2 linked regions of the Homo sapiens genome follow. The protein of the gene in region 2 interacts with the protein of the main gene of each other region in a pairwise test. Each region holds a gene or a part of one and is shown on either strand. Other genes may lie near its edges. The genes, in order: LRP8 and NECAB3.

Region 1 (16,628 bases), on a different chromosome or scaffold from region 2:
CTGGTGCTTGGGAAGCTCTTCACACACTGGAGGAGGTTCTCTCCTAGGACTTTCTCAGATGCCAGCACCTGCCCCACTGCATGTCTGGGCCCTCTTCAGGCAGTCATGTCCTTTCTTTGTCCTGAGATCCACTTGGCAGGAATGCCGATGACCAGGCGCTGGGTAGACACTGAGTCACTGATGAAAGAATGATGGGACAGATGGGTGGAAGAGTGGATGGAAGCAAATATAGCAAGTGCTACTCACTGACAACTAGATTCCTGCCTCCCTGCAACATACAGACACTCCGTTCACACACACCCAAAAACATAACTAGAACAATGCCTGTCCAAGAGATGTAACTGAAAGAGGCAGGATTTGGTGACAGACTAGATATGGGGCTGATGGAAGAAATTTACTCCTTCATAGTGAATTTTGGGAGTTTCAGGTTTTTGGCTTGGGAGGTTTCATGAATGGTGGTGCTGTTCTCTGATGTGTGAAGCAGTAGAGGAGGATCAGGGCTCAGGGTTTGGGCCGTCTGGTTGGCCGAGGGGAAGGGAATGGGGATGAACAGTTTTGGACATATTGAGTTCAAGGTGTCCATGGGACATCCAAGGGGAGCTAGTTAGCTTTGCAGTCTGGATCGTAAGAGAGCTGTTGGGATTGGAGACTTAGTTATTGATGGCAGTGGACACTAAGGAACTAATCACCCAGAGAGAGGGCAAGAAGAAGAAAACCTCTGGGGAAACAGCATTTGCTATTTTGCTAATGTTGCCTCCTGAGTGTCTACTGTATTCTTAGCCCTTCTTTCCATTCTCACTGGCACGGTCATTCTTCAGACTCTCTTAATCTCCCACCCAGATGCTGTAACGTCCTCCTAACCAGTTTCCCTGCTTCATTCCCTCTCCTTCCAACCCATCCACTCCATAGATGCCACAGTGAACTAACATGCTTATTGGACTATATCCTCTGGCCTGTCTAGTTATCACTGGGGAGAAATCCTAATTCCTTGGCGTGGTACTCAAAGCCCATCAAGATGGGGTTCCTGCCTACACCTGCTTGCAGTCTGACACCCACATAAGCAGCTCCCCTAAGTATCTCACTGTTCCAGAGCAGACTCACCTCTGGCCATTTGCACAAGCCTTTCTTGTTCCCTAATGGCTTTCTGTCCTGGTGACTTCATGCTCCTGGTGAACTCGTCCTTCAGGACTCAACTATAAAGCCTTCTCCCGCCCTCTCGGATGAGGCAGTCTCCATGCCTCTGCTGCCATAGCCTCTAATGCTTTCCATAATCACATTGTATTATATCTGGCTCACCCTAATGGGCAGAGCTGTGGAGCAGCCCCACCTTAGAAAGCCAGAGACCGTGGCCCATGTAAGTCTGTACCCCTACCCTGGTACCCCAGGGAATGTGTAGAGTGGAAATTATCCACGTTCCTCTAAAAATCTATTGCCATGGCCCAGATGGAAGAGAGGGGAAGGGTGCACAGGTAGCTCCAGATGGGCCCATGGGTGGAACATCTGCCCCATGGTCATCTCTGTTTTCTCTTAAGCGCCTACATGGACAAGGCCAGTGACCCGAAAGAGCAGGAGGTCCTCATTGACGAGCAGTTGCACTCTCCAGAGGGCCTGGCAGTGGACTGGGTCCACAAGCACATCTACTGGACTGACTCGGGCAATAAGACCATCTCAGTGGCCACAGTTGATGGTGGCCGCCGACGCACTCTCTTCAGCCGTAACCTCAGTGAACCCCGGGCCATCGCTGTTGACCCCCTGCGAGGGTGAGTGTCCCAACTGAACTTCCCATTCTCCCACCATAGGTGCTCAGTCCTCTTGTGTCTGTCACAAGGGCTATCTTGAGGGTTCTAGAAAGCTCTGGGCCACTCAGACACAGGCCATGGGGAAGAAAGTCTTGTTAATCCCCAACCAAGGTTCTCTGGGCATTGGTCACCAAAGTTCTCCCTGGACTCTCCCACCCACTCGTTATATCGTAGAATTGGAGTGTCTCAGAGCAGAGTAGGGCTCTAGAGATGGCCTGATAGAAGCTCCTGGGGGAGGAAGCCTTTCTTCAGGCTGCTGTAGGTGAGCATCTGACAGCTGCTCACATACTTCCAAAGACAGGTAGCTCATTACCTCCCATAGGGCCTGTTTCACCGTGGGGCAGCTCTGCTCATTAGAAAGTGGGTCTTTTCCCCTCATAATGCCAAATCTATCTCCCTGCAACTTCCTCCATTGGCCTCTGGAGTTACATAAAACATGTCTATTCCCTGCCCTGTGAGAGAGCCAGCAAGATTTGAGGACCAAGATCACTGGTCTGTTCTGCTTCAGACTGCCTGCCTCCATCCCTACCCCTGTTGCCTATGGTCTCTGGGCCCTCACCACCTAGGTTGCCCTGCTCTGGCCACCCCTCAGTTTTGGGAGTTAGGGATTCTGAACAGAACAGGACTCCCTCTCTCCCTCAGTGTGGATATCTTGAGATGGTTTTTTTAGCGTTATATCATGTTAAGTTTAACAGAATCAACAGCTGCTTCCTACTGCTATTTCCTTGTTAAACAGGGATAAGAAAACCCTCTTCTTCGAGCAAGGGCAGCTGGTGAGGGGAGTACCACATGGGAGGTTATGTGAGGCCTTGGGAAGTGACTGATAGCTGCCATTCACTAAGCATGGGTCAGGTGCTTCCAGCACAGAACTAGGCACTCTGACAGATACGGAGCCTCTCCTCTTACCCTCACTTCATCCCTGTTCTCTGTCTGTTCTCATGCAGACCTTGTGTTGCACCTGCCACATCCTGTCCCTCACATCATAGAGTTACACCCAGCCCAACCCCAATCCACTGCGGATCGTCAGGGTCCCAGGAGGAAACCCACTGCATACTCAAGATAATCAGAGGAGGGTTTAATAAAGGGACTATTTACAAAGGAGTGGGTTAGGTCTAATTTACTACCTTGGATTAGTAACAGTGGGCTGCTACTGGCCCTAGTAGGCCTGAGGAGACAAAAGCAGGGAGGGTTACCTGAGTTAGGAAGCTCATCCACTTTCTCCTCTGAAACCAGAAAAGAGAGGGCTTACTAGGGCCTTCCCCACACTGACACCCTAGGGCTCTAGTTAGTTAGCACTGCCAGAAGTGGGAGAGATGGGGTCACAGGCTATTCAGCTGAGTCTGGGTGCAATCTCGGAGAATAGTTTTCCTCAAGTTCTCAAATGAGGTGAAGGCTAAAGTGCCTGCTAAATCTAAGATTTGATGGTTCAAAAGAACTTTAGAGGTCTTCTCAGTCCCTACTAAACATAAACCACAACTAGTCAATGGGTTATTGAGCTCTTGTGACTCAGACCACCCCGGTCATGTCCCCAGCAAGAAGGCAAATTGGGTTATTTTGTCTTTTAGGTTCATGTATTGGTCTGACTGGGGGGACCAGGCCAAGATTGAGAAATCTGGGCTCAACGGTGTGGACCGGCAAACACTGGTGTCAGACAATATTGAATGGCCCAACGGAATCACCCTGGGTGAGCCCTGCCTTTCCTGGGTTGGGGGCCTATTCTAGTGCCTTGTCCTGATCACTGTCTGGAACTCCATGAGTCTTGTTTCTGGGTCCTCTCATGGTGCCAGTGACTTTGTTTCCTAATGGTTGCCGTAGGCTGGCCTCAGTGTGAGGCCTAGAAATGTGGGCAGGGAGAGGTACAAAGGAACAGAGCTCCAGACTGGGGTCCCAGGTTCATGACCTGATCCTGCTTCCTTCCCAAGATCTGCTGAGCCAGCGCTTGTACTGGGTAGACTCCAAGCTACACCAACTGTCCAGCATTGACTTCAGTGGAGGCAACAGAAAGACGCTGATCTCCTCCACTGACTTCCTGAGCCACCCTTTTGGGATAGCTGTGTTTGAGGTGAGTCCTGTAAGGAGAGGCAAGGGCCCACTAGGAAGCTGAAGCCTAGAAAATGCTTGTTCAAATAGGATGAGTCCCTGAGACTTGTTCAAATGAAAACAGGAACAGGGAAACCAACTGATTTGTTTGTAAACAATCTGTGAGCTGCCTGCACACAAAGGCTCTGCAGCCCACTCTCCACCTGGCAGCCTTTCCCACGCTCTCTTCCCAAGACCCCTCTCCCAGAGCACTTCTCACAGGTGAGCTGCTAGGCATGTATGTTTCCTCTCTGTGCCCTCAGCACCCAGCACTGTAACCCATATACAAAAGGCACCCAGTAAAGGGAGGAAAGGAAGAAGGAACATACATATCCTTAGAATCATTTACTGGAGGAAATGGCCTGAGAGATGCTGTTCAATTCTGCACACTTTTATTGACCTCTGCCAGACCCTGGGGTCATAGAAGTGAATCAGACACTATCCTAGTCTCAAGAAGCTCCCAGCAAAGTGAGGAGCGAAGACCCTCCTGTGCCCTGACCCTAATGACTTTTCTTCTCCGGGAATGAAGAAGCCAGAACCAACCAAGGTCTCACACCTTCACCTCTTCCCGAAAACTAACTCCACCACCAAGGGGAGGGAAAGCAAAGGGATGATGGTCTGTGGTGGGCATTGGCAGGATTTGCTTGCAGCAAAGTTACTCAGCACTGCTCTGAAGTTGTGGGCAAAGCTCCACCTCTAAGTCCAGCCCCTGCTTTAAAGGACAGGTGTGTTGGTACACAAGTGTTTGTGCTTGTTTATATACATGGCATGTACATGTAAAGTATGTGTATGTGCATGGGTAAATATAAATGCATCAGAATAAAAGTGTGCATTCCTCTAAGTGCTGGTGCTTATGTGTGTACATACATATACCAAGATGTATATAGACTGCATATTTAGGGGCAAATGTAGCTTTTTGTGTGTGGATGAACATTTGGGTATGTGTTTAGATCTGTGTATGAGGATGCACAGTTGTACCTGTACGTGTGGATTTGCTGACAGATGCACATCTAGGCTTATATGGACTAACCATGTGGACTCGTGTGGATACCCAGAGGCTACAGGAAGCCCAGCAAGGCATAACCCTCATAGCTCACACATTCCTTCCAATCTTGGTCCCAGGCCCCAGTAATGATAATGCTATAGAGATTTAACCTTGGGTTTCTGCTGGGCTCTAGCAAGCAGGCTTAGTTCAGCATGAATGAGTAATGTTGTGGCTGTCAGTTCAAAGCACAGAATCACTGAATAATCCTCTAAGATAGAAGGGAACAAGGAGACGTGCATCACAGATTAGAGGCTGAGAGCCCCACCGTGAATCCATAGACAGGACAGATCAGGGGAGATTTCAGGGAAGTTCTTGTGACTATGGTTTGGGGCCAACCCCTCAGACTGAGGTCATGGATTTACACTCCAGGCCTCCCATCCTCTGCATCTATACCCCACAGGACAAGGTGTTCTGGACAGACCTGGAGAACGAGGCCATTTTCAGTGCAAATCGGCTCAATGGCCTGGAAATCTCCATCCTGGCTGAGAACCTCAACAACCCACATGACATTGTCATCTTCCATGAGCTGAAGCAGCCAAGAGGTGAGCTGTCTCTGGTCCTAGGTCCCAGGTCCCCTGACTGTGTCACTGTGTCCTCTCCTTTCACCAGGCAGGCTGTGTTCACATTCAGGTCACAACTCAGCAACCCCAGGAATAATAACAACAATCCCTCTTGTTGGTAGAGTACTTTTTCATCATATATTTTGTCTCATTTTACCTCAAGTTCTTTGTGAAATAAGGCTGGGTATAAATGAATACATAACTGTCCTGTTTTTGCCAATCCTACAAAGTGTGGGTATTACTCTTCTAACAGTTGAGGAAACGGAAGCTCAGAGAGGTAAAATAATGTTAGCAGGTGGCAGAACTGAAACCTAAACCCAGGTCTATCTGGTTCCACAGCTGCTTTCACCATGACACACTGCATCTAACTTGCTATTTGTAGCCATTCTGCAGTAGTATAAGCTAATGTATCCGAGGGCCATATAATAAGTCAGCTTATTGGTTGGGAATAGAATCTAGGAATCCTACTACTAGGTTGTCCCCTCCTCTATCACTAGGATACATTAATTCTAACTGTAACTGAAGTGTTGGCTGCCAGGGTGAAAGAGGGAGAGCAAGGGAGTGTAAGGAGCTAAGATTGGTGCCTGATTCTAGACCTAGAAATTTAAATGAGAGACATAGTATGTGGCACAGGGAAAAATAAAAACCGCGGGCTTATGGGCTTTGGAGCCCAGCCGACCTCAATTTAAGTTCTATCTCTAGTCCAGACATGGTGGCTCATGCCTGTAATCCCAACACTGAGAGGCTGAGGCAGGAGGATCCCTTGAGCACAGGAGCTCCAGGCAGCAGTGGGCTATGATTGCATTACTGCACTCCAGCCTGGGCGACAGAGCAAGACCCCTACCTCTTAAAAAAAAAAAAAATTCCTAGAGTATAGGTTTGACGAATTTGTTCTCTTTGAGCCTAGGTGTCTTTATTTGTCAGTCTGGGATGTAACGTCCCCACCTCTCAGAATTGTTGCAAGGATTAAATGAGAGTGTAGGGATAAAACACTAGGTATGGTGCTGGAAAGTACCCAATAAAAGTAGTAGGGAGGCCAGGCATGGTGGCTTATACCTGCAATTCCAGCACTTTGGGAGGCCAACGCAGGAGGATCACTTGAGCCCAGGAGTTTGGGACCAGCCTGGGCAAGAAGGCAAGACTCTATCACTACAAAAACTATAAAAATGACCCTTGTATGGTGGCATGCGCCTATAGTTCCAGCTACTCGGGAGGCCGAGGTGGGAGGATTTCTTAAGCCCAGGAGTTTGAGGCTGCAGTGAGCTATGATTGCACTGCTGCACTTAGTCTAGGCAACAGAGTGAGACCCTGTCTCAAAACATAAAACATAAAAAAAATTGAAAAAGTAGAAGGGCTTCACAATTGCAGAGATGTGGAACCAACCTAAGTGTCCATCAACTAATGAGTGAATAAAGAAAGTGTGGCATATATACACCTTGGAATACTACTCAGCCATAAAAAGGAACAAAATAATGTATTTTGCAGCAACTTGGATGGAGCTGGAAGCCATTATTCTAAGTAAAGTATGATAGTAGTGGAAAACCAAAAACTATATGCTCTCACTTATAAGCAGGAGCTAAGCTATGAGTACACAGGGGCATACAGAGTATAGCTAAGCTATGAGTACACAGGGGCATATAATGGACTTTAGAGACTAAAAATGGAGAAGGTAATAGCGGGGCTAGAGATTTAAAAAAAAAAAAATTACACATTAGGTACAATGTACACTACACTTGGGTTACAGGTGCGCTAAAGTACCAGAATTCACCACTATATAATTCATCCATGTAACAAAAAACGTGTATCCCAAAAGCTTTGGGGGATAAAAAAAGAAAGAAAAAGAAAAAAAATGTGAAAAAAAAAGTATAGGGCAAGCTTTTTGAGCAAGCCAGGTGGGAGAAGCCTCATCCTCAGGAGGCAGGAAGACCTGGCATGTCCTGTCTGTGCCCCAGCTGTCTCCCTCTCTGCCATTAGCTCCAGATGCCTGTGAGCTGAGTGTCCAGCCTAATGGAGGCTGTGAATACCTGTGCCTTCCTGCTCCTCAGATCTCCAGCCACTCTCCCAAGTACACATGTGCCTGTCCTGACACAATGTGGCTGGGTCCAGACATGAAGAGGTGCTACCGAGGTAAGCAGACCTTCCAGGAGGGATGGCCCCTGGCAGTGTCAGACCCTACCCTGCTGAAATCTTCCCTTGGCTTCTGGGACACAGTATGCTGCTGGTTTTCTTCCATCTTCCCTGGTTACTTGTTGCCTTTTGGGGGTTTCTCTTTTTTACCTTCCTTGAATGCTCATGCCCCCAGGATCCTTCCAAAGCTTTTTCTCACTCCCAAGGAAAAAATGCACATATACATAAAACATTTTAAATTCAGTTTCAGGGAGTTTCTGGAACGCTTTAAAAACCTCAAGTTAAGAACCCTTAATCGCCGTGGCTTCAGGTACATGCAGATAACTATATATTTGCCTGTTTCTCACCTAGAACTTAACAAACACTACACAGCAGCCCTTTTGCAATATAATTGGGACTAATAGTTAATACTTCAACCGCATACACAGATTCATGTCCTAATCTTGATGTATAGCCAAGGCCTTTCATTTGAGCCTAAGTCTACTGCATTATTAATGATTTACAGGTTCAATTGTTTAAAGTGGAATAAGAATTTCAATCTATTGGTATAACAATATATGAGTGTAAAATCCTTCTAGATTTATCTGATTTCCCCTCCCTACAGTCTTTTTATTGCTGATCTTACAACTAATTCCACAGCAATGTTTTAATGACTCATCTTTATTGAATCAAAGTGAAGTGCTTAGCATTCAGCTAAAGAAAAGATCATAGCCCACTGGGGAGATTAGGAAAGGCTTCACAGAAGTGGCATTTGAGCTACGCCATGAAGATAAGTTCCTAAGTATATCTCAGAGGCAATACCTTAGGCAACAAAATTATCTGTCCAAGTGACCTCCATGGTATTTCCCCTCCAGCACCTCAATCTACCTCAACTACGACGTTAGCTTCTACCATGACGAGGACAGTACCTGCCACCACAAGAGCCCCCGGGACCACCGTCCACAGATCCACCTACCAGAACCACAGCACAGAGACACCAAGCCTGACAGCTGCAGTCCCAAGCTCAGTTAGTGTCCCCAGGGCTCCCAGCATCAGCCCGTCTACCCTAAGCCCTGCAACCAGCAACCACTCCCAGCACTGTAAGGAAATGAGTTCTGCATTCTTTCATGACATGGGAGGGCTCCTAGGGAAGCCAGGAAGGGGGTATGTGATAAGACAGAACCTACCAGAGCTGAATACTGCATATCTTTGAGGAGGTTACTGCATATCTGAGAGGGAGGTAGAGTACCAGCCTGCGATTTAGGACTCATAGGTGCCCCTACCTTACAGAGGGTCTTGTAGGAAGCTGAGACCCTGTGAGCCTCAGTTGCTTCTCTTACAAAGTGGAAATAACCACCCTTCCACAACCTGCTTCACAAGATTGCCATGATAGACAAAGGTGTAACCGGTATAACTGGAGGTGCTCACGCACACAGCCGTTGCTGACTCTGCGAGGGTGTGTGTGTCTATGTTTCACAAAGTTCTGATGTGTATATGAGGAGGTGTCCCTTGTGTTTGGAAAGCTCTGATCTCAGTTCACAGCAGGTCCCCAGATAGTAATATCTACAACCATGGTCTCCTTATACCTCTTTCCAACCCTGGGATGAAAATAATTAAGTTCACCACTTATTAAATCATTGGGAGCAGTAATTGTCACTGCTAGAAATGTTCTATCTCATTAATCAGCAAATACCTTTTTAATTGAGTTACCTGCCAGAGGGAGTTCATTTAAAAGGATAAACTATCTTTTTAATTTTTTCCCCTACATGGACAGCCCAGAAACCAAGCTGCTTGGCAACATCTTCCTAACTGGTCCTATTTGCCAGCAGAAGCTGGCTTTTTGGAGTGGAGCACTTACTCCGAAGTTTGCAGAGGCAGATGGAGCATGTGTGAATTCCAGTTCCTCTCATCTGAGGGCAGAGCCTCTCACCAGCTTCTCCTCACTGGCTTCCTCATGCTCTAGGTTTTAATATCACTGTCCAGTGTTCGCTGTGGCCCAGAGCAGGGAGGACAGCAGGGAGGACACAGTTAGCTCTGGAAGCAAGCAGTGCAGCTTTTTCTCCCCTTAACTGTTAGATTCTCTTGGAGTAACATGGATAAACAGTCACATTGAGAGAGGATGGGCCTTGGGCCATTGCCGGGACAGTCATCTCACCTGCAGCAAGTGTAGATGATAGCTCCTTTTCACACCACAGGGAGCTGTCAGGAGGATCTAAGGGAAAAATGCTTTCTGAACTATAAAGTGCTTCACAAATGTTACAATGAAGATGGTTATAAGAGTGAGAAAGATGGCATGGCATAGTTTTTCAAAAAGACAGTAAATTTTCCAAGCACTTTTCAGTTTAAAATGTGCTTTTACATATCTTTTTAAAATTTAGACCCTATTCAACAACCCCATCCCACTCTCCACCCTCTTAGAACTAGGCAAAGTTGTGCCAAGCATTTTATATTCATTTTAGATAAATTATTTCATTTAATCCTTACCATATCCCTAGGAGGTAGGTAATATCACCATTTTAAAGATATAAAAGTATAATACCATGTGCTGTATTTATAATATATAATAATTTGCCCAAGGTCACATGGGTAGTGAGTAGTAGAGCTGGGACTTGAACCCAGAAGTCTGACACAGAAGTCTGCGCTTTTGATTCCTCTACACTATACTATGTCCCATTTCAATTACTTATGAAAAATAATCTGATAATGCAGATGGACAGACAGTTCACAAAAAACAATACTGGCAAAGCAACAGATACTGATGGAAAAAGGCAAATGACCTAGTCCATCAGCAACATAAAGACCTAAGTGCTCACTTTGCCATGCACAGCCCCCAGCTTCCTACTACCATGATGCTATGGAAAGGGTATGGGACTTGGGACATGAGTCCTGGGTTCAAGTCCCAGCTCTGCCACTTTTCTGAAACCCCTCAGTTAAGACTCAGTTTCCTTGCCTGTAAAATGGAGATAACCTCTGTCCTGCTTGCCTCACAGGAGTTGTGATAGGATCTGGAAAGACTGAATTATTAGGCAACAGCCAGGATCATCATTTTAGAATGAGGATGAGCAGCAGTTGGGTAGTTCTTACCACTTGAGGCCAGTAGGGGCTTGGACACACAGTGATAGAGCATCATTCTGCAAATGTTTGTGTTTTGCAGATGCAAATGAAGACAGTAAGATGGGCTCAACAGTCACTGCCGCTGTTATCGGGATCATCGTGCCCATAGGTGAGTGTGGCCCCCAGTCACTGAAGAGAAAAGAGAGACCCTGCTTAGGCCTAGGGAAGAGCGCTAGCAGGGTAGAGAACTTGGCCTGCCCTATTGACTTGTTCTGCCCTTGCAGCCTTCCTGCCCACCTCCCAGTCCTGATTTAATTTGGTTTTTTAGCCTAGCACACAAGGCTCTTCAGGACCTGGCCCCAGGTGACCTTCCAGGTACATCCCCCATCTCCCCACCCCTCGATTCACACTCTACACTCCAGCTATGTGAAGTGCGACTGTATGATCCCTAGGAACAGGGCTGGTATCTCTTGCTCACCATTCTCCCCAGCTCCTGGCAATGTCTAGCACATGGTAGGATATCAAGGATTTGTTGAATTAATGAATAGAGCTGCTTACCATTCCTTTAATAGGTCATACTGTCTTGTTTTCTTTCTGTTTGGTTTTCAACAAGTATTTATTAAGCAGCTACTATGTGCCAAACTCTGATAAGGGGAGGAAAGGCAGTTAAAGATGAATAAGACATGGTTCTGTCCTACAAAAGTTTATAGTCTTGTTAGAGAGACCCACATAACACAGATAAGTTCATTACGACCTGGTAGGTCCTAAGGTTAAGCTGCATGCACTGACTTCAGAGACAGTGCTGAGGAAACACTTAACTTGGGCTGGGGGAGGGGGAAGAGGGAAGAGGAGGTTTCCTAACAGAAGTGATATTTGAGCTGGGTCAGCCAAGTGAGGGAGGATCAAGAACAGTCCAAGCAGTGAAGACAGCATGAGTAAAGCCAGGAGTAGGAAATGGCCTGGAAGGGTCAGGGTGGGGTGGGTTTAGAGCTAGAAGGAGATCAGTATGGCCAGAGTATAACACTTTGTTAAGACCTCACAGAGAATCATGGGGGCTGATTCATTCTCTTCCACCCTGATGACCACACGGTATCCTGTACACCCCTCTCTTAGCAGTCTCATCTCGTAGCAGTATCTTTGCATTCTGATTGTCCATTCAGAGCTTTATCTCCCTTACTTGGCTATGAGTACTTCAAGGACAGGAACTTTGTCCTTTTATCCTGGGAATCTTCAGTATGCCGAGTTAGTCAGCAAATGTTTTAAAAACTTCTCCCCTGTGTAAGACACTGACTGTGCCAAGTGCCAAGGATCCAGGGAAGAAAAAAATAAAGACTTTAAGAGCTTTCAGTCTTTAATCAGGCAAAAATAAAGTCCTTTAAGGTAGATGTTAATACATGTCATTATGTGCTATGATAGGGGCATGTTGGATATAGATAGAGACAGAGGAACAATGTAATAGTGGCATGATACTCTTGTGAAGGGATGGTAGAAGGAAAGGTAATTCCAGAGTAAAAGTGGCGCTTCTGGAGAAGACAGCATTTGAATTGGCCTTGAAAGGCTTCACCAGGAAAGATGATGGTGAGGTGATTATTCCAGGATTATTTTGATTGGAGTGGAGAAAGATAAATCTACCCCTTTCTTGCCATCCTTTGCCCTATAGAAAGAGGCAGATATATGCTGTTTTGCTGACATAACTCACTCTGAAATATTCAATATTTTTAATTTCTGCTAATCTGAGGAGTGAAAGATGAGTATTATTTCCCTGACATTTCCCTGTGAGGTAGAGTATATTTTCGTAAGCTTATCAGCCCCTTTACTTATATTTTATCTGTTATGAATCGCCCACTCACAGTCTTTTCTTATTTTTCTATTGGCTATCTTTTTCTTATTTATAGAAATATTTATACATGACAAATATTAAACCTTTAAAATATATGTTACAAATATTTTCTTCCAGTCTGACATTTGGTTTTAAAGTTTGTTTATGGTATCTTTTGCCATGCATAAATATGAAACTTTTAAGTATCAGATTTGTCAATCTTTTAAGATTTCTGGGTTTTGTGTCTTGCTTAAGAAGGCCAGCCTCACTCTAACTTATTAAAATATCTCCTGATGTTTTTCTTTTCTACTTTAAACTTTTTTTTAGTATTAGGATATTAATCTATTTGGAATTTAAATTTTAGAGTATCGTATGAGGTAGAGATTTAACTGTTTTTTTCTCTATATACCTGTCTAGTTTCCCCAAAACCATCATTGAATAATCCATACTTCTCTCCTGACTTGCACGTCATCTTTATTATAAACTACCTCCCATACGTACTTTGATTTGCGTCTAAGCAGTTTATTTTCCTTCACTGATTTATATATTCCTACATACTATTAGCACAACTTCATGATATGTTATGCTCACAACATCTTCTCAGCTATTTTTATTCAGTTTCTCTTCTAGGTGAACTTCAGAATAATCTTATCAATTCTATAAAAATTTTGGTGAAGTTTTTATCAAGATTGTTTTAGATATATGAGTTTATGTGAGGAGAATATACCTTTTTATTATATTAAAGCTTCCCATCCAGAAATGTGGCCTATTTATTTCAGTCTTCTTTTACGTCCCTCAGCAGAATTTTATAGATTACACAGGACTTGCGTATTTCTTCTTAGGTTTTCCTAGGTATTTTATAGCTTTTGATGGGCTATTACGAATGTATTTTTATTCCATTACTTTTTCTTTTTCTTTTTCTTTTTAAGAGACAAGAAGATCTTGCACTCTTGCCCAGGCTGGAGTGCAGTGGTGCGATCACAGTTCACTGCATCCTCGAACTCCTGGGCTCAAGGGATTCTCCTGCCTCAGCATCCCGAGTAGCTGGGACTACAGGCATGCACCACCACACCTGGCTAATTTTTTAAATTAATTTTTTTGTAAAGACCAGGGCTCACCATCTTGCCCGGGCTGGTCTTGAACTCCAGGGTTCAAGCAATCCTCCTGCCTCAGCCTCCCAAAATGTTGGTATTACATATGTGAGCCACTGTGCCTGGCCTCCGTTAAATTTTCTAATTGGTTGTTGCTGATTAAAAAGACGGCTAATGATCTTTTATGTTGATTCTTGATTAACTAAAATTATTTCTGATAGTTTTTCACCAGCTTCTCTTAAGAGTTTCTAAAAATACAAATAGCTGTTAATAACAGTTTGGTTTCCTCCTTTCTCATATGTATTTATTTATTTACTTTTTTTTTTTTTTTTTTGAGACAAGGTCTCACTCTGTTGCCCAGGCTGGAGTGCAGTGGCATGATTGTGGCTCACTGCAGCCTTGACCTCCCAGGCTCAAGCAATCCTCCCACCTCAGCCTTCTGAGTAGCTGGGACTACAGGTGCCCGCCACCATGCCCAACTACTTTGTATTTTTTGTAGAGATGGGTTTTCGCCATGTTGGCCAGGCTGGTCTCGAACTCCTGGCCTCAAGTAATCTGCCTGCCTCAGCCTCCCACAGTGTTGGGATTACAGGCGTGAGCCACCGCACCTGGGCTCCTTTCCCATATTTATACCCTTAAATTTTTTTCTGGCCTTACTGCATAGCTAGATCTCTAAGACAATAAATATTAGCAATGATAACTGCCTTGTTCCTGTCTTTAATGCTTATCAATTATTGTAATCTTACTAAAACAGAAACCCCTTCCATAGCATCCTAGATAGGTGATCATTCAGCCTCCACTGGGATGCTCAGAGTGACTGCTAATCACCTTACAAAGCTACTTGCTCCATTTTTACCCAGCTGTGTTGGAGAGAGCTTCCTCCTTTAATCATTAACATAGTCATTTATTCTAAATCAGAGCTTGTGTTGCCCTCTGTGTCTCCTTCTAGAGATGTTCTTCTTCAGGTGGAGCCTCACCTTTGGAAATAAACACTCTGCCTGGCCCCATCCCACTCTCCACCCCCCAGTTTTGGGAGAGAATCGTTTTCTTAGAGAAATCTAGGGAAGCAGCAGCATTAGGGCAAAGGTGTGGTAAAATTCACTCATTCATTCAGCACATGTTACTAGGCACCTAGTCAGTGCTAGGAACTGGGCGTAGAGAGTTTAAAAACAAAAAAAAGACACAGTCCCTGCCTTGAAAGAGCTATCTAGTTGGGAGTACAGATACATAAAGTAAGATACTGTGTGTGATCTGGGAGCACACATGAGAGAGCAACTGACTCTGCCCACAGTTGGGGAAGACTTCACATTTGAACAGGATCTTGAAGGATGAATAGTTAGTAAAGGAAAGAAGGGATGAGAGATGGGCTTTCAAACAGCAGTAAAAGAACATGCAGAAACAGAGCCTGAGGAGCAAAGGGTAGTAAAAGTGGAGTGGTGACAAGCCTTGTACAGATGTCTGAGCAGTGGGTTGGAGCCTGCTGGAGGTCCAGTGTCCTGTGTCCTTCCTCCAGTGGTGATAGCCCTCCTGTGCATGAGTGGATACCTGATCTGGAGAAACTGGAAGCGGAAGAACACCAAAAGCATGAATTTTGACAACCCAGTCTACAGGAAAACAACAGAAGAAGAAGACGAAGATGAGCTCCATATAGGGAGAACTGCTCAGATTGGCCATGTCTATCCTGCAGTAAGTATTTCTCACTGGGAGAATTCCTACCTTCCGACCATCTTCCCTTCCATCCTTTCTTCCCCTCCCATCCTTTCTTCCTTCCCATCCTTTCTTCCCTCCCTTCCTTCCTTCCGTCCTTCCCTCCCTCCTTTCCTTCCGTCCTTCCCTCCCTCCCTGTCTTTTTTCTTTCCTTCTTTCCTTCCTTTCCTCCCTCCTTCCCTTCCTCCTTCTTTCCTTCCTCAAACATTTATCAAAAACGCACCATGTATCAGGCACTGTTCTAGGCCCTGGGGAACACAGAAATGCTGGGGTAGGTGGTTAAGGTAAAAAGGTATCAGGACCACCTTGTACCTAGAGGCTCTTCCTGGCAGTAAAAAAAGCCAAATGTCTCTCTTTCTGCTCAGTAAATTTTCAGAACCTTTAGCCTGGAAGGGTAACTGTGGCCATTTAATTCAAATGTATTCATTTCAATACTGTATGCCAGTTATGTGCCAAGCACCACATTAGATATCAAGTATTCAAAAGTCAATAAGGAACATGCTTGCTCCCAAGAAGCTGGTAGGGAGTTAGAGATACTAACATACAGTGGTATAATTGTGTGCTGAATGCCGTGGTGGAAGCTCAGGAGTCCCCTCTTCTAGAAAGCTATCTTTGGCTTGCTTTGTTCTCCCACAGTACTCTGGGCCTCTCTACCTCACAGCCCCTGTCACACTGTAGTCCACTTGTCTTTTACTCAGTGGTCTCCTCACTAACCCATAAGATCCTTGAGGGCAGAACTGTCTGATTAATCTGTTTTCCTGATGCCTAGCACGGCATGGCTGACTCCCAACAAATATTTGTTGAACAGATGCCATGGAAACATCAACAAGGGAGCTATTAATTCTGTCTGGGGAATCAGGCAAGGAATGCCTCACAGAGAAGGTGACAGATGGACTATGTCCTTGAAAGATTAATAGCAGTTTTCCCGGGAGAGAAGGAGGGAAATGGCATTCCAGATAGAGGCATGTGCAAAGGCTTGAAGGTACAACACAGCATGGCTTTTTGGGGGAATGAGGACCACAAAGTGGCACAGCAGGTGTCACTGTTATACAGCACAGTCAGGGGGCTGAGTGTGACCTCAGAGGTCATCCACAGTGCCATCCCCCTGTCAGGCAATCAGCAGCTTTGATCGCCCACTGTGGGCAGAGCCCTGTCTTGGGGAGACCAGAGAACCGGAAGACCCAGCCCCTGCCCTCAAGGAGCTTTTTGTCTTGCCGGGGGAACCAAGGTCACAGCTGCACCAACTCCCGAAGAACCCTCTTTCCGAGCTGCCTGTCGTCAAATCCAAGGTAGGGCAGTGCCACTCTAAGTCTGAGGGGCTGGTGAGTGAGGGCATGAACCAAGGCAGGCGCAGCCAATCCTAGAAGG
Region 2 (13,410 bases):
GCCATGGCTTCCCCGCCCGAAAATGCAGGCTCCAGGATGCTGGGACTGTGGGGATTTGGAATGGGGGTACAATGGGCGCTTGTGCACTAGCCCCACAGGTTGACAGCACCCTTACATACCGCCAGCCATGGGCCTGGGCCTCCAGGGTATCTGACGCCCCCTCCAGCGAGCTCTGAAGGGCTTGCAGCTGGCTCACCGTCTCCCGCAGCAGGAAGCGCGTCACAAACTGGTCCACTTTGGAGGCCCTCTCGTACTCCTGTGGGCCAAGGAGGGACGGTCAGCATCTCCCAGCCCGGGCACTGATCTCTTGAGTGGGTCCCCTGCCTCTTGCCCATCAGAGCAGCGGTGGCAGTGCCAAGAGCAGGGGCACGCAAACCTGGCACAGGCAGGAGGGTACTGAGACCTGATGGGCAGGGAGGGTCTGGATCCCTCCTTGTCCGGGACTGGCCTCCCTCCCCGGAGGTGTGAGGCCAACTCACAGGGGGCATCTGCCCAGCGAAGTGCCTGGCCTCTCTGGACCTCATGGCCCCTTCCCTGATGGGGCTACCACCTTCAGCACTGTCATAGCCAGTGAGTCCCAGCCACAGCTAGGCTGGGTGGGGGCTATCACGAGGTATCCAAGGGCCAATGTTGACACAAGGCAAAATAATGGCGTGGTGTGGCCCCAGACTCACAATCTACGTATTCACTCATTCATTCATTCACTCATACACACAACACTGGGTGCTTTTTACTAGGAGCTGCTGATAAAAGACAATCAGGTTGCCATTCTCACTCAGACACACACGCCGGCACTGACCCCAACCGACACTGCCAGCCTCCTCCCAGCCCCTCTCAGGGTGGCAGAGAGGCAGGGAGGCTGCCCAAATGCTAGGCCCTGCATGGCCCAGCATGGGATTCTGAGGCTCCTCAACAACCGTCAGTTCCTGGAGCTTCCATTTCCTCATCTATCAAACAGGAAAGATGAAACTCAGCACATGGAGCTGCAAGAACGTCCCAGGAGTTAATTCCTGCATAGGACTCAGCCCAGGGTCTGGCACGTAAGCTCTCGATGCCAGACCTACCAGCCATCTATCGTCAAGTGTAATACAATAAAGGGCCTGCCCACTTGTACACCCAGGAGTCACAGATGTCCTGAGAATTGCCTAACCCCTACCACACACACACACACGCATCAGGGTGGGAGTCCTGGGGAGCTGCAGTCCAGGTGCCTGCCCTCTCCGAGGAGACTCCAGAAGCCCCATCCATCAGAGACTTCATCTCCTGCCATGACCTGCCTCAGCTCAGCCATCGGATGGGACCTCCTGGGCCAGGCTTATGAGCTAGGAGACAGGGACAGAGAAGAGGCTGGGTCTTTTCATTCTCAGACAGGCCAGGGTTTCTATCTCCATGAAATCTTCCCAAAAAATTCCTTTTTGGGTATTTGAGATGATTAGTTTCTGTTGCTTTCAACCAGAGAACAGACAGAAGCACCCACTCAGAGCCAAGCACTACTGCAAGAAGAATTTCATTTAGTCTTTTGTTTTTCTGAGACAGAGTCTCACTGTATCACCCAGGCTGGAGTGAAGCGGCATGATCTTGGCTCACCGCAACCTCTGCCTCCCAGCTTCAAGCAATTCTCCTGCCTCAGCCTCTTGAATAGCTAGGTTTACAGGCCTGTGCCACCACACCTGGCTAATGTTTGTATTTTTAGTAGAGACGGGGTTTCACTATGTTGCCCAGGCTGGACTCGAACTCCTGACCTCAGGTGATCCACCCGCCTCGGCCTCCCAAAGTACTGAGACTACAGGCATTAGCCACCATGCCAGGCCTCATTTAACCTTTGTAACAATTTACAGGAACCATAATTGACCCCATTTTGCAGATGAGAAAACAGGTCCAGAGAGGTTGATTACCTGGGCTAAGGTCACATAGCAAGTTAGTAGCAGGGCCAAAATTCATACCCAAACCACAGAAATCCCCCTCTATTCACCACTAAGCACCTTACATGCATTGCCTCATTTATGATCATTAGCCCAGTTTTACAGCTGAGAAACCAAGGCTAGAAGTGACTGAGTGGAGCCCAGATTCACCTGTGGGCCCTGGAAGGCGGTGCTCAGAGCCTGCAATTGGTGAGGTCAGCCCGTGAGGTCACAATGTTGCCAGGGCCCAGGGGGCAGAGCAGACGGAGTGTGGGCCATCGTCCCCAGTGGTGACCAGCCCTGCCATGGGAAACTATAGTTCCCACAAAAGGACCAAAGCACCCAAGCAGGCCCGCAAGGAGAGGCCGGCTGACATGGACAAGGCCTGGTGGAAATCGTTCCTCAACCACCTCACTCGGAAGAAGCCGGCTGTGAGGGCGGGGGATGGGGAGCAGGGCTGGGGAGGCAGCTGGGGGGCAGAGAAAGCTGGACAAGTGGGTGGGAAGGGATGCTGGGAGTCTAGGCCTTGTATGCAGAAGTCCTAGGGGGTGAGGGAGGAATTCGAAAATCTCTCCCAAGGATGAGGATCCCAGGAGCCCATATGGGTGTGGATGGGGGTCCTTTCAAGGTGGCTCACGCCTGTAATCCCAACACGTTGGTAGGCCAAGGTGGGTGGATAACTTCAGCCCAGGAGTTTGAGATTGGCCTGGGCAACATAGGGAGGCCCCATCTCTACAAAAATTAAAACTTAGCTGGTTGTGGTGGTGAATGCCCGCAGTCCCAGCTACTCAGAAGACTGAGGTGGACTACGTGAGCCCAGGAGGTCAGGGATGCAGTGAGCCGTTGACAGCACCACTGCTCCAGCCTGTAGGACACAGCAAGACCCTGTTTGACTCAGTCTTAAACAAAAAAAGCCCAGAAGGGAGGGCAGAGATTCCAGAACCAGAAAGTGGATGAGACTTGAGAGCCCCGGGGGGTGAGCATGAGTGGGATTCTCTCCCAACCCTGGACGAACGGGTGGAGATCCCAACACGGAGAATCAGTTCTAGTTGGTACTACTGGAGCTAGAGGCAGGGGGAATTCCCTAGTGTCCTCTCTTCAGCTCCTAGGCTCAGAACTTCCCTGTCTCCCTCTCAAATGAGCAGAAGCCCTGGACCAGGCGGGGGTGGGAGGTGCTGAAAGCCCCTGACATAGGGCCTGGAAGGGATCTCATAAACTTAGACGGAGCTGGTCTCAGGAAGTCAGCCTGGGATGGATGAGGGTTTCCAGAAAGGAGGCGGAGTCCGGGGCGCCACGCAGGGAAGGGCGGGCTTCCCCGCGGCCTGAATTGGACAGGGGTCCCCTCCAGCCCTGTGCACGAGAGGATGACAGGACCCGGGTGGACGACAGGACCCGGGTGGACGAGGGTCCCAGGAGAAGCGCGGAGCGGCCCCGGGTCGTGGGCTCGGCCCTAGCGCGCTCTCCCGCCTCACGCCCCTGTTCCACCCCCAGACCAGGATCGTGCTGATTCTCCCCCTGGACAAGCGGCAGCCGCTGGCCAACGCTGGGCAACGGATTGACTACGCGTCCGGCGCTGGGCTGGGCTCCCCGGCGGCACCCAGATTGCGCGGAGCGGGCGAAGGTAGCGAGCGCGAGCCGAGGATGCCGGTACTGCTGCTGCTGCGGCGGCAAGAGGCGCGGCGGCCGGAAGAGGGCGGGGCCAGGGCAGCTCTGAGCTGGCCGCGGCTGCTCTCGCGCTTCCGGTCCCCGGGGAAGGCTCCCCGCGAAGCCGGCCCCGCCGAGGAGCAGCCGCGCAAACGGTGCCGCTGCCCTCGCCCGCAGCTTTAAACGCTTGGCCCGGACCCCGCCCAATAAAGAGTGCGTGGCAACCCTGGCGCCTGCGAACCCTGTCGGAGGCGTCTGGGCGCGGAGTCGGGGTGGGCAAAGCTCAGCCTAGGAGCCGCAGAGGGGTGAACGGGGCGTGATGAAGGCAGAGCCATCGCCACGGTCTGGAGCCAGGGCTGTCTTTTGCTTTCTCCTTCCTTGTGCCAAGGGTCAGAACAGAACCCCAAACCTTGCTACAGTGGCGGGAGGCAGTTTCCTTCCCCCAACACTCCAAATCCAGGTCACATCCTGCCCAGTCTGCAGGCTCAAGGGAGGTGGGCTTGGGCAAACCCAGGCTTGGCCACGCTAGTGAGAGGGACCTGCTTCCGGTAAAGCCTGACATCCCCCCAGCATCCAGAAATCCCTCTTAGGCATGAGGGAGGGTTCCCGGCCAACAGGCACCATCCTGGGTAAGAACAGCCAGGATGGCAGTCAGCTGGGGCAAGGCCTGAGACGTGGATTCTGCCTGGGGACGCACCCAGGAGAAGCTGGAAGCCCTGGGCCTCTCTCTGGCCCCTCACTCCTACACATTGTGCTTGGTAACCCCAAAGCATTCAGGCCCCCCAGTCTTCCCCAAGGCACCTGTCTCCCAACCTACCCTGTCCCATCTCCTTCCCCACGTGACAAAGACTAATTCCAAACCACTTACCTGTCTAGGGCAGCTCACTCCCCTGCTCATAAGCTTTCAACAGGTCTCCATTACCAACAGGGAAAAAGCCCACAGCTTCAGTCTCACTCCCCAAATCACTTAGAAGAAGCCCTGCCACACTTTCTGTGGGCGGGATCCTGCTGCTGCTTCTCCTCACTCTCCCGGGTCCCAAATCCAGCTCCACACCCAATGCCACCCCTGGCCTGCCAAACCTGCAGCCCGCCTTCCTGCCACACTCTGGTGACCAACCTCAGGATGCCCTCTTTTGGGGGCAGATGCAGCAGGACTGAAGTCCCAGCTCACTACAGCCATCAGCCCAGCTTCTGCTGAAGATGCACTTTTGTCACCGCCACCAGGATGAACATCTCCTCCACCTTGCCTGCACCAGGCTGGAGGCTGCAAGAGCTATAACATCACTCCTGCTAATTGTGAGAACTGACTCTTCCCTACCATCCACATGGTTACAATCAGGGTAACCATGTTCTTCCATGGGGCTGCACCTCCTGCCCATACAGTGATTGGCCCAAGCTGGTCCTGTCAGCCCCTCCCCCTAGGACTGTGATTCAGGAGCTGTAAGAGACCATGTTCTCTACTTGAACATGCACAGGCTAAGCCAGCCTTCAGAATAAAAACACAATGCAGGCCAAGCGCAGTGGATCACGCCTGTAAACCCAGCACTTTGGGAGGCTGAGGCAGGCAGATCACGAGGTCAGGAGATCGAGACCATCCTGGCTAACACGGTGAAACCCCGTCTCTACTAAAAATACAAAAAACTAGCCAGGCATCATGGCGGGCGCCTGTAGTCCCAGCTACTCGGGAGACTAAGGCAGGGGAATTGAACCCAGGAGGCAGAGGTTGCAGTGAGCTGAGATCACACCACTGCACTCCAGCCTGGGCAAGAGAGCGAGACTCCATCTCAAAAAACAAACAACACAATGCAGTGCACATCCTGGGTTCCCCACAGCCCCGCAGTCAGATTCTGTTCCTGAAACCTGATTTCACCCTTGCTCTTGATATCCATAACATGTAAGATCCTTTCAATAAAGTCCTTATTTTGGGTTACATTCACCTGAGTCTTCTACCTGCAACCAAACTGGTCCTCAGGAGGATGAGGCTTTGCAGAGACAAGAAGTGACCTCTTTCCTGTGTGGGGGGATTATTACTACCTTTTGGAGGAGAAAACCGAACCCAGAGAAAGATCAAGACTTGCTTAGGACTGCACAGTGAGTCAGCTTCAGAACTGAGTCTTGCTGGGTGCGGTGGCTCACACCTGTAATCCTAGCACTTTGGGAGTCCAAGGCAGGTGGATCACCTGAGGTCAGGAGTTCGAGACCAGCCTGGCCAACGTGGCGAAACCCTGTCTCCACTAAAAATACAAAAATTAGCCGCGTATGGTGGTGCATGCCTGTAGTCCCAGCTACTCAGGAGGCTGAGGCAGGAGAATCACTTGAACTCGGAAGGCAGAGGTTGCACTGAGCTGAGATTGCAACGCTGCACGCCCAGCCTGGGTGACCGAGACTCCGTCTCAAAAATAATAATAATAAAAAAAAGAACTGAGTCTCAAACTGAGGCCCACGTGAATCCATCCGTGGAAGCCCATAAAGGTAGGGCCAGAGCCTCTCGGGGGCTCTTCAGGGAAGCTGCAGATCTGTGATGAAAAAGCTTTTTCTTCAGCACTGGGAGGGGTAGGGGGCCACACATCTGGACAGAGTACATCAGATAATTCTAAGTGGTTTGGGAAAGGAATCAGACTGTGCTGGGCTGCTGAAGCCAGACCCCTGGATGCCAAAATCACTGCCCTTGGCTCTGTCCAGAAGAGAGGATGGGTCCAGGGAGTTGTCATAAGGTAGGGAGCTGCGAAGTGCAGCTGCTGGGGAGTGAGGTCACAATGAGCCCAATCCAAGTTCTTTTCTGCCTTCTGACCAGCCCCTCCCCTCTCCACAACCAGGAACTTCCGTCAAGCCCAGGTGAGAGGTGCCAGGAGGCTGCCTGGGTCCTCAAGGGGGATATATGTCCAAATGGCCTTACCACAAGGCCCCTTCGCCCTCAAAGTTCTGCTCCTCCCGGGGGCTTCTTAGGATCTAAAAGGATCAGTCCTAGCCATCTCGTCAGCCATCTCAGCAAGGGCTGACGGGGCGGAACAGCAAAGCAGAGGCGGGTCCTGAGAGCGTGGAGCCTGAAGCCCGGCGCCAGAGGGAGACCAAGAGGGTGAGATGCGGCTGGAACCCAGCCAGAGCGGAGACTGAAGCCTGAACTAGGGGCCGGGCCTCAGGCCTAGGAACTAGCCACGAGCTGAAAAGGAGGCGGATGGCCCGGACAGAAGAGGCGGGGCTTTCAGACCAGAGGGCGGAGCCAAGAGCTGAAAAGGGTGGTGATTTGGTCCAGAAGAGGAAGAACTTAGGCTCCGGAGGCAGAGCCAAAGGCTGAAGGGGACTACTCCCTAGGACAGAGGCCGGGAGGTATCGGGCCGACGAAGCCGAGTGGCGCGGAGGAGCGGAGCCTTCAGCCCCGCGGCTGGGCCGAGCCCGAAGGTGGCGTCGGTGTCGGGGAGCCGCCGCGTGCACCGGCCGTCCTCCCTGGGCCGCATCGCGGTGGTGGTGGACCAGGGCTCGGGCTTCACCAAGGCGGGCTTCGCGGGCGAGAACCAGCCGCGCATAGTGCTGAAGAGCTCTAGCTTGGTGCCCAGCTGGGACCGGCCGGTGCTGCCCGGAGCGCCGGGCTGCGAGCTGGCGGGCGGCGTGGCGCGGGCGCACCCCATCAAGCACGGCGTGGTGGCGGACTGGGAGGCGCTGGAAGGGCTGTGGGAGCGCCTGCTGGTGGGCGGCCTGCGGGTGTGCCCAGAGCAGTGGCCCGTGCTGGTGAGCGACTCGCCGTTGGCGCCGCCCGCGGGCCGCGAAAGGGTGGCGGAGCTGCTGTTCGAGACCCTGGCAGTGCCCGCGTGCCACATGGCTAGCACCGCGTTGCTGGCGCTCTGCTCCACCGGCGCGTTCAGCGGGCTGGCCGTGGAGGCGGGCGCGGGCGTGTGCCACGCCACGCCCATCTACGCGGGTCACTCGTGGCACCAGGCCACCTTCCGACTGAACGTGGCAGGCAGCACCCTGTCGCGCTACCTGCGGGATCTGCTGGTGGCGGCGAACCCTGACCTCTTGCAGCAGGCCCTGCCCCGCAAGGCCATCACACATCTCAAGAAGCGCAGCTGCTACGTGTCCCTGGACTTCGAGGGCGACCTCCGCGACCCCGCCCGCCACCATCCGGCCAGTTTCAGCGTGGGTAACGGGTGCTGCGTCTGCCTCAGCAGTGAGCGCTTCCGCTGCCCCGAACCCATCTTCCAGCCGGGCCTGCTGGGCCAGGCTGAGCAGGGGCTGCCCGCGCTGGCCTTCCGGGCGCTGCAGAAGATGCCCAAAACGCTGCGGACACGCCTGGCAGACACCGTGGTGCTAGCCGGCGGCTCCACACTGTTTCCTGGCTTCGCCGAGCGCCTGGACAAGGAGCTGGAGGCGCAGTGCCGGCGGCACGGCTACGCGGCCCTGCGGCCCCACCTGGTGGCCAAGCATGGGCGTGGCATGGCTGTGTGGACCGGCGGCTCCATGGTGGCCTCCCTGCACTCCTTCCAGCGCCGCTGGATAACTCGGGCCATGTACCAGGAGTGTGGCTCCAGGCTGCTGTACGATGTGTTCAACTGAGTCAGGCTGGACTGGGGGGGGTGGCACTGCGTTGGGGGACAGCTCTCTATCTAAAGAGTCAAGTGTTTGGAGCTGGCAGGGTCCTCCTGGAGGTTGGAGCTGACTGGATGGGTCACCCCCATACCCTTTCTGGGCCAGGAGAAGGTATTTGGGACCCATGGGACCCTCATTTTGAACTGCAGTTTGAATCTCCCCAACCACTGCCAGTTCAGAGAATGCCAGTCCAGCTGCCTACCCACAGGGCCCTACTTTATGGCAATAAAGGTGATGCCCCACTTGTGTCCATGCCACAGATATGGGAGTTCCTCCAAACCCTCGTCATGTACCATTTGGACATACATCCGATGCCAGGCCCCAAGGGGCGATCCCTTGAAAAGCTACTAAATCTCATGTGAAAGTCACCAGGAGGAGGAGCCCTGTGCCTAGCCATGTGCTCAGGTCATTGTTGACTATGAGTGCCTCAGTTTCCCCTTCTGTAAAAAGTGGGGTCAGGCACAATCCCGGGCCTGCTCACTGCTCCCTCCCCCTTACAAGAGCTATGGAGCAAAGGGAGGTGGAGATATTTCTTGAACACACAAAGGGAAGGGCAGCTTATTTTTTGGAAGTCACCACTCAAGGGCCTCAAGCCCTGGCTATCAGCACTGTTCGAGCTTGTGTATACACGTGTCCACACAAACGCGTGGGTGTTCACGTACCTGCCTACTCACGTATGTCCTCGGGCCAGGCCCTGCCCTGTGAACCTGTGAGCACAGCCTTCCACGCCTAGCCCAGCCCTGAATGATATCCCACCACAGTTGTGATGGGCCAGCAACTAAAGCAACAGCAGCCCCTAGTATGAAGCACCCAGTGTATGCCAGACATTATTCTGGGTGCTGGAAACAGAATAAAACAGACAAAAATCCCTGCCTTCGTTCTCACTGGTCACAGTGATGTATGAAGGGCAGCTCTATTGTTATGATGGTTTACAGATGAGGAAACAGGCCCAGAGAGGTCAAGGGGCACAGCTACAAAGTGGGAGCCAGGATTTGAACCCAAGCCCCTAGCTCTATAACCCTGAGTCAAGACTGTGGAGGATCCCACAGCACAGCAGATGCCCACTGCCTCACAGTGGATCCCCCACCATCAGCCACTCCACTCACCAGCTTGGTGGCATCCATGGCAGCGAGCACTGCACGGTTCAGCGATTCCAATGCAGCCAGCACCGGCCGGTAGACACCCAGGTGCTCTGAGAAGTAGTCTGCAGGCAGAAGAGGTGCTCAAGGGTTCCTGGACCCCCACCCATCTACCCACCCTGGGATTCTGGCCCCCTGGAATTCCTCAGCAGCCAAGCAGGCCTTATATCCTGAGCCCAGCCCAACCTGTCCCATCAGGAGACCAGCAACAGTCCCTTGCCACACGTACCCTGGGGCCCAGGGGCCACAGGAGAAAAGAGCTCCCATGGGCCTACTCACCACACAGTTTTTCTGTTTCTAAATTGCTGCAGGGAAAAGAGAAGGCGCCCTTCAGACCTGGGCCTGGTAAACTGGGACTAATGGGGCCAATGCCCCACATCCCACCCCACCAACTCCCAGCTTAGCCTAACAAGGCCACTTCTGCTCCACCCCAGATTAAGTTGCTCCTGTGGACAGAGTCCTTGCAGGGTTGGAGAATGGGTTCTACTGCCCCCACCAATCACTCTAAGGGCAAAGATTCAGACCCATTCTTGGCTACCAAGAGGATCTCAGGCCAGGGGAAGATGGATGTGGACACAGGCCAGTGAGAAGTGGTCAGAGCTGCGAAGGGGAAGCCAGGTGCAAGGCAATGAAGTCCAGGGACGGCATGGGGTATTTAGTTGTAGGTTAGGGAGGGTTTCCTAGAGGAAGAGCTGCCTAAGTGAGGCCCTGAAGGACAAGGAACTGGGTGGGGAGTCTGGCCAGGAGGGGAGGGGAAGCACTGCAGATGAAGGTTCCAGCCCAAGTCTCAGGAGCCTGAGACTGACCCTCAGGAAAGGGGAGAAGGGAAGTAGAGGGAGTAACAGCGGTTCATGCGTGTGCACCCCTGGGAGCAGGCACGGGAAGGAGCGTGCACACTCCTGCCAAGACGCGTAGATGTGGGAGCACACAAGGGGTAGATGGTTGCGTGTTTATGCACTGCATTCTCGGGTGGAAGCAGGCGGGGCCCAGCTGTCCCCAGGCATCCTCTGGTCCCTGTGGGAAGCGGGAATGGGGAGCTGAGCCATGGGTGGTGACTCAGACTTGGCTATTTTGGGGTCCCAGCTGGAAGCAGTGTAGTGGGCAAGGCTGTAGCTGGAGAGGGGGTAGGCAGGCGGGTAAAGTTGGAACTGAGCCCTGGTACCTTTCTCCCTGCCCCCTCTTCCTCATCCTACAAAAGGAACCAAGGCAGCAGGGGACACAGTGGGGTAAAGACAACCTGGCCTCGCATCTACCCACGGCCCCCTCTCATACTCACTCGGTGAGATGCCCATCAATGCCGCTGAACAGTTCCTGCAGCTCCCCCAGGCTGAGAACCCCATCGGCAAAGTAATTCTGGAATTCCTCAAATGAGAGCTTCCCATCATCTGGGGTGGCAGGGGGAGGACAGGGAGCAGAGGAGGTATCCCTGACCCTGACTGCACCCCTGCCACCAGGTCCAGGGTCCCAAAGGCCTCATAGCATCTGACAACCATCTAGCTAGGTGAGATGGGAGTCTGAGGTCAGTGGGGGGCCTGACTGTTGGGGACAAAAGGACTGGGGTCCTTGAAGGTGTCCAGTGAAGGCAACAGAACCTACTTTGCAGGCACCAAAGGGACAGGGCAGTATGTACATAGCGTTGGGTAGGAACTCAGTAAATGTTTGCCAAGTGAAAAAACAAGCAACAGGCTGGGACACGGCCACATTGTGGCAGGGCCTAGATGTCACCTGGAAGGACTTGGGGACCAGCCTCACTGCAGGGCACAAGGAACCTCCATTCTCTGGACCCAGGACCTTCACAGAGAAGCCACGGGGAGGCAGATGGAATCCTCCTACTAGTTGGAGCCTCTGTAGGCAGCAGCAGGCTGGCTCAGAAGGGAATGAGCTCCCCATCACAGGGGCATGTAAGCAGAGGCTGGGAGTACTTATGTGGGACAAAGACATGGGATTTGGCCTGAATGATGTGTGAGGTCTCTGAGCAGATGGGTGCGGGGAGCTGACCCGGGGGAGGATCTGAACCTCCCCAGACAGAACTCCCTGGTCCAAGTGAGAGCATGTGTCCTGATCAATGGGTTGGGACAAACAATCCCCATCAATTTGAAGAGACCCAAGGAGAAGGGGCAAAGAGTGGGGACAGGACCCCGTCTCTAGGAGGATGAAACACAAGAGGGCGTGAAGACCCAGATGAAAGGAGCCCCAGGCTGACTGCGAAGCTCAGACCCTCCACGGGCCACACAGGGCACAGTGGGCTGCTCCAAGTCATCTAGGGGGAGCAGCCTGTTGCTGGATGGGTCCCCTAGGGCTCCTGCTTTAGCTTCCAAGTTTCTCCCAGACCAGGGTCTGAGACTGCCCAGGACCCAAGGCAGGAGGAGCCGACTCCTTTGGCACTGGACCCAGCTTTATCCTTGCCCAAGGCGTGGGTTTAGTTGTGTCCTCCAAGACCTCCCTGGTCCAGATGGTTGGTCACATGACAAGTTACTGAGCCCTCTAAAAACCTGAGTAAAATCTCCAAAAAGGCCTCATCTCCATTACCTCACTCTTCCAAGTGCCTCACACAAGGAGCCTGGGATTAAATGCTGCAAAGACCCAAGTTCGAGCCTATCAATTAAAGGCTGTGTGACCTTAGGCAACTTGCTTCACCTCTCTGGCCCTCTGCTCCTTTATGAAATAGGGTGAATTCCAATCTAGCTGGTGGTTGTGAGGACAACAGAGGGCCACGTACAGGAAGTGCCCATCACCATGCCAGGGTGCTGTGTGAAAGTCAGCCCCTATCTCCAGTCCGTGGCCAAACCACATTCTCTCCACTCTCCATCCTGCCAAACTTGGCTGAGAACAGCACTTCCTCTGGGAAGTGCCTTGATTGATTCTCCTGTTTTGGGCCCCCAAGATTTGTCTCAACTCTTGACTTCCCACCCAACCTCCCAACTCTCCCTGGGCCTCCTGGATGCCTCCCACCCTGCCCCACTGTGGGACCCAGGGGAAGCCACACTCACCATTCTTGTCTGCTCTGCGGAAAACCTAGAGGACAAAGGGACATAGAGAGAACTGTGAGTGCCACCTGGGAAGCCAGAGGCCCCCACTCAACCCGACAGGGTCCCAGCTGGCCGACCTACCCCCTGCCTCGCCTTTCCTCCCGCCCAGCCTGGTCCCAAACCACCTGCCCAGCTCAGCCCTGCAGGAGCTTTTCCTGCAAGCGGGGCACAGGAAGAGCACGCAGCGGGTGCCACCTCTGCTCACTTCTCCTGCAGGGCCTGGCCTCGTGGGGGGTGCTCCTGGCCAGTCCCCTGCGTCCCCACCTCCCACACCCAGAGTGCAGCCCAAGTTCTATCTGATACATCAGCCCCTGGCACAGTTCCAGCTTGAGGAAGGTTGAGGAGATGGGCCAGGTTGTGGCCCAGGAATCTTGCACAGCCGTCCTAGACCTGAGCCCCGAGCTCTGCTGTGTGGCCATGGTCTACCCCAGCTGCCCTCTCTGAGCTGTTTCCTTGCGTGCTGTTGAAAACCAACAGCAGGCAGTGGCTACTCTGTCTCTGCAGGCGCCTGAGTTACCCACTAGCAAATAGATCAGGAGCAGCTGGGGTTAACTCTTTCAGGGCTGGGGCTTCCTATGGGGCTGACTCTGAGGACCTTCGGCAGGCGTGTGTGTACACACACACGTCCAAGGGGGAGTGGGGGTGGCAGAAGGCAAGTTCGGCAGATTTCATTTATGGAGAAGTGGAGATGAAGAGCAACAGAGGCAGAGAGGAGCAGAGTCAAGACAGGTCCCCGTCTCTCTTAGTGACCTGCTCCCAGGTCACCCAAAGCAGCCCAGCAAAGGGGAGACTGGCAGGCCTGGCAAGCAGGGGTGGGCCAAGCCTGGGCCGAGAGCCCCCATGAACTCCAGGTCCTGAACGCCAGCCCCCTCCAGGGTCCTGTTTTGTCAGGGTCAGTGGGGCTCAGGAAAGACTCTAACCTCTAGCCTAACTCAGAGAAGGTCTGCCACTGGCTGAGGGGCACGCAGCAAGCCAGGGAGGCCCAGGTAGGGTAGATGGAGATCTTGGGAGTGGGCAGGGGTGCTAAGCTGGGAATGGGGACATCTGGGGTCACCCTATTGTATCCCTGCCTCCATGACTGACCTGAGACATATCCCCTCAGGCCTTGGTTTT

What was found.
Region 1: the proteins of NECAB3 (region 2) and LRP8 interact in binary tests that used the Homo sapiens proteins (3 or more experiments, as listed by UniProt).

What each region holds. Positions count from the first base shown.
Region 1 is NC_000001.11:53,249,301-53,265,928, reverse strand, and holds part of LRP8 (low-density lipoprotein receptor-related protein 8 isoform 1 precursor), read left to right. Parts: exon of another isoform or gene 1-177; intron 178-1,532; coding exon 1,533-1,760; intron 1,761-3,364; coding exon 3,365-3,483; intron 3,484-3,721; coding exon 3,722-3,861; intron 3,862-5,323; coding exon 5,324-5,465; intron 5,466-7,457; coding exon 7,458-7,610; intron 7,611-8,464; coding exon 8,465-8,689; intron 8,690-9,447; exon of another isoform or gene 9,448-9,801; intron 9,802-10,673; exon of another isoform or gene 10,674-10,743; coding exon 10,744-10,812; exon of another isoform or gene 10,813-10,832; intron 10,833-11,201; exon of another isoform or gene 11,202-15,037; intron 15,038-15,066; coding exon 15,067-15,239; intron 15,240-16,372; coding exon 16,373-16,549; intron 16,550-16,628. UniProt on the Homo sapiens protein: Cell surface receptor for Reelin (RELN) and apolipoprotein E (apoE)-containing ligands. LRP8 participates in transmitting the extracellular Reelin signal to intracellular signaling processes, by binding to DAB1 on its cytoplasmic tail.
Region 2 is NC_000020.11:33,660,140-33,673,549, forward strand, and holds part of NECAB3 (N-terminal EF-hand calcium-binding protein 3), read right to left. Parts: intron 12,284-13,410; coding exon 12,259-12,283; intron 10,654-12,258; coding exon 10,545-10,653; intron 9,574-10,544; coding exon 9,548-9,573; intron 9,334-9,547; coding exon 9,236-9,333; intron 8,387-9,235; exon of another isoform or gene 8,097-8,386; coding exon of another isoform or gene 7,359-8,096; exon of another isoform or gene 6,804-7,358; intron 3,770-6,803; exon of another isoform or gene 3,729-3,769; coding exon of another isoform or gene 3,393-3,728; exon of another isoform or gene 2,333-3,392; coding exon of another isoform or gene 2,207-2,332; exon of another isoform or gene 2,073-2,206; intron 2,043-2,072; exon of another isoform or gene 1,983-2,042; intron 257-1,982; coding exon 120-256; intron 1-119. Other genes in the region: uncharacterized protein C20orf144, read left to right, coding at 2,207-2,332, 3,393-3,728; ACTL10 (actin-like protein 10), read left to right, coding at 7,359-8,096. UniProt on the Homo sapiens protein: Inhibits the interaction of APBA2 with amyloid-beta precursor protein (APP), and hence allows formation of amyloid-beta.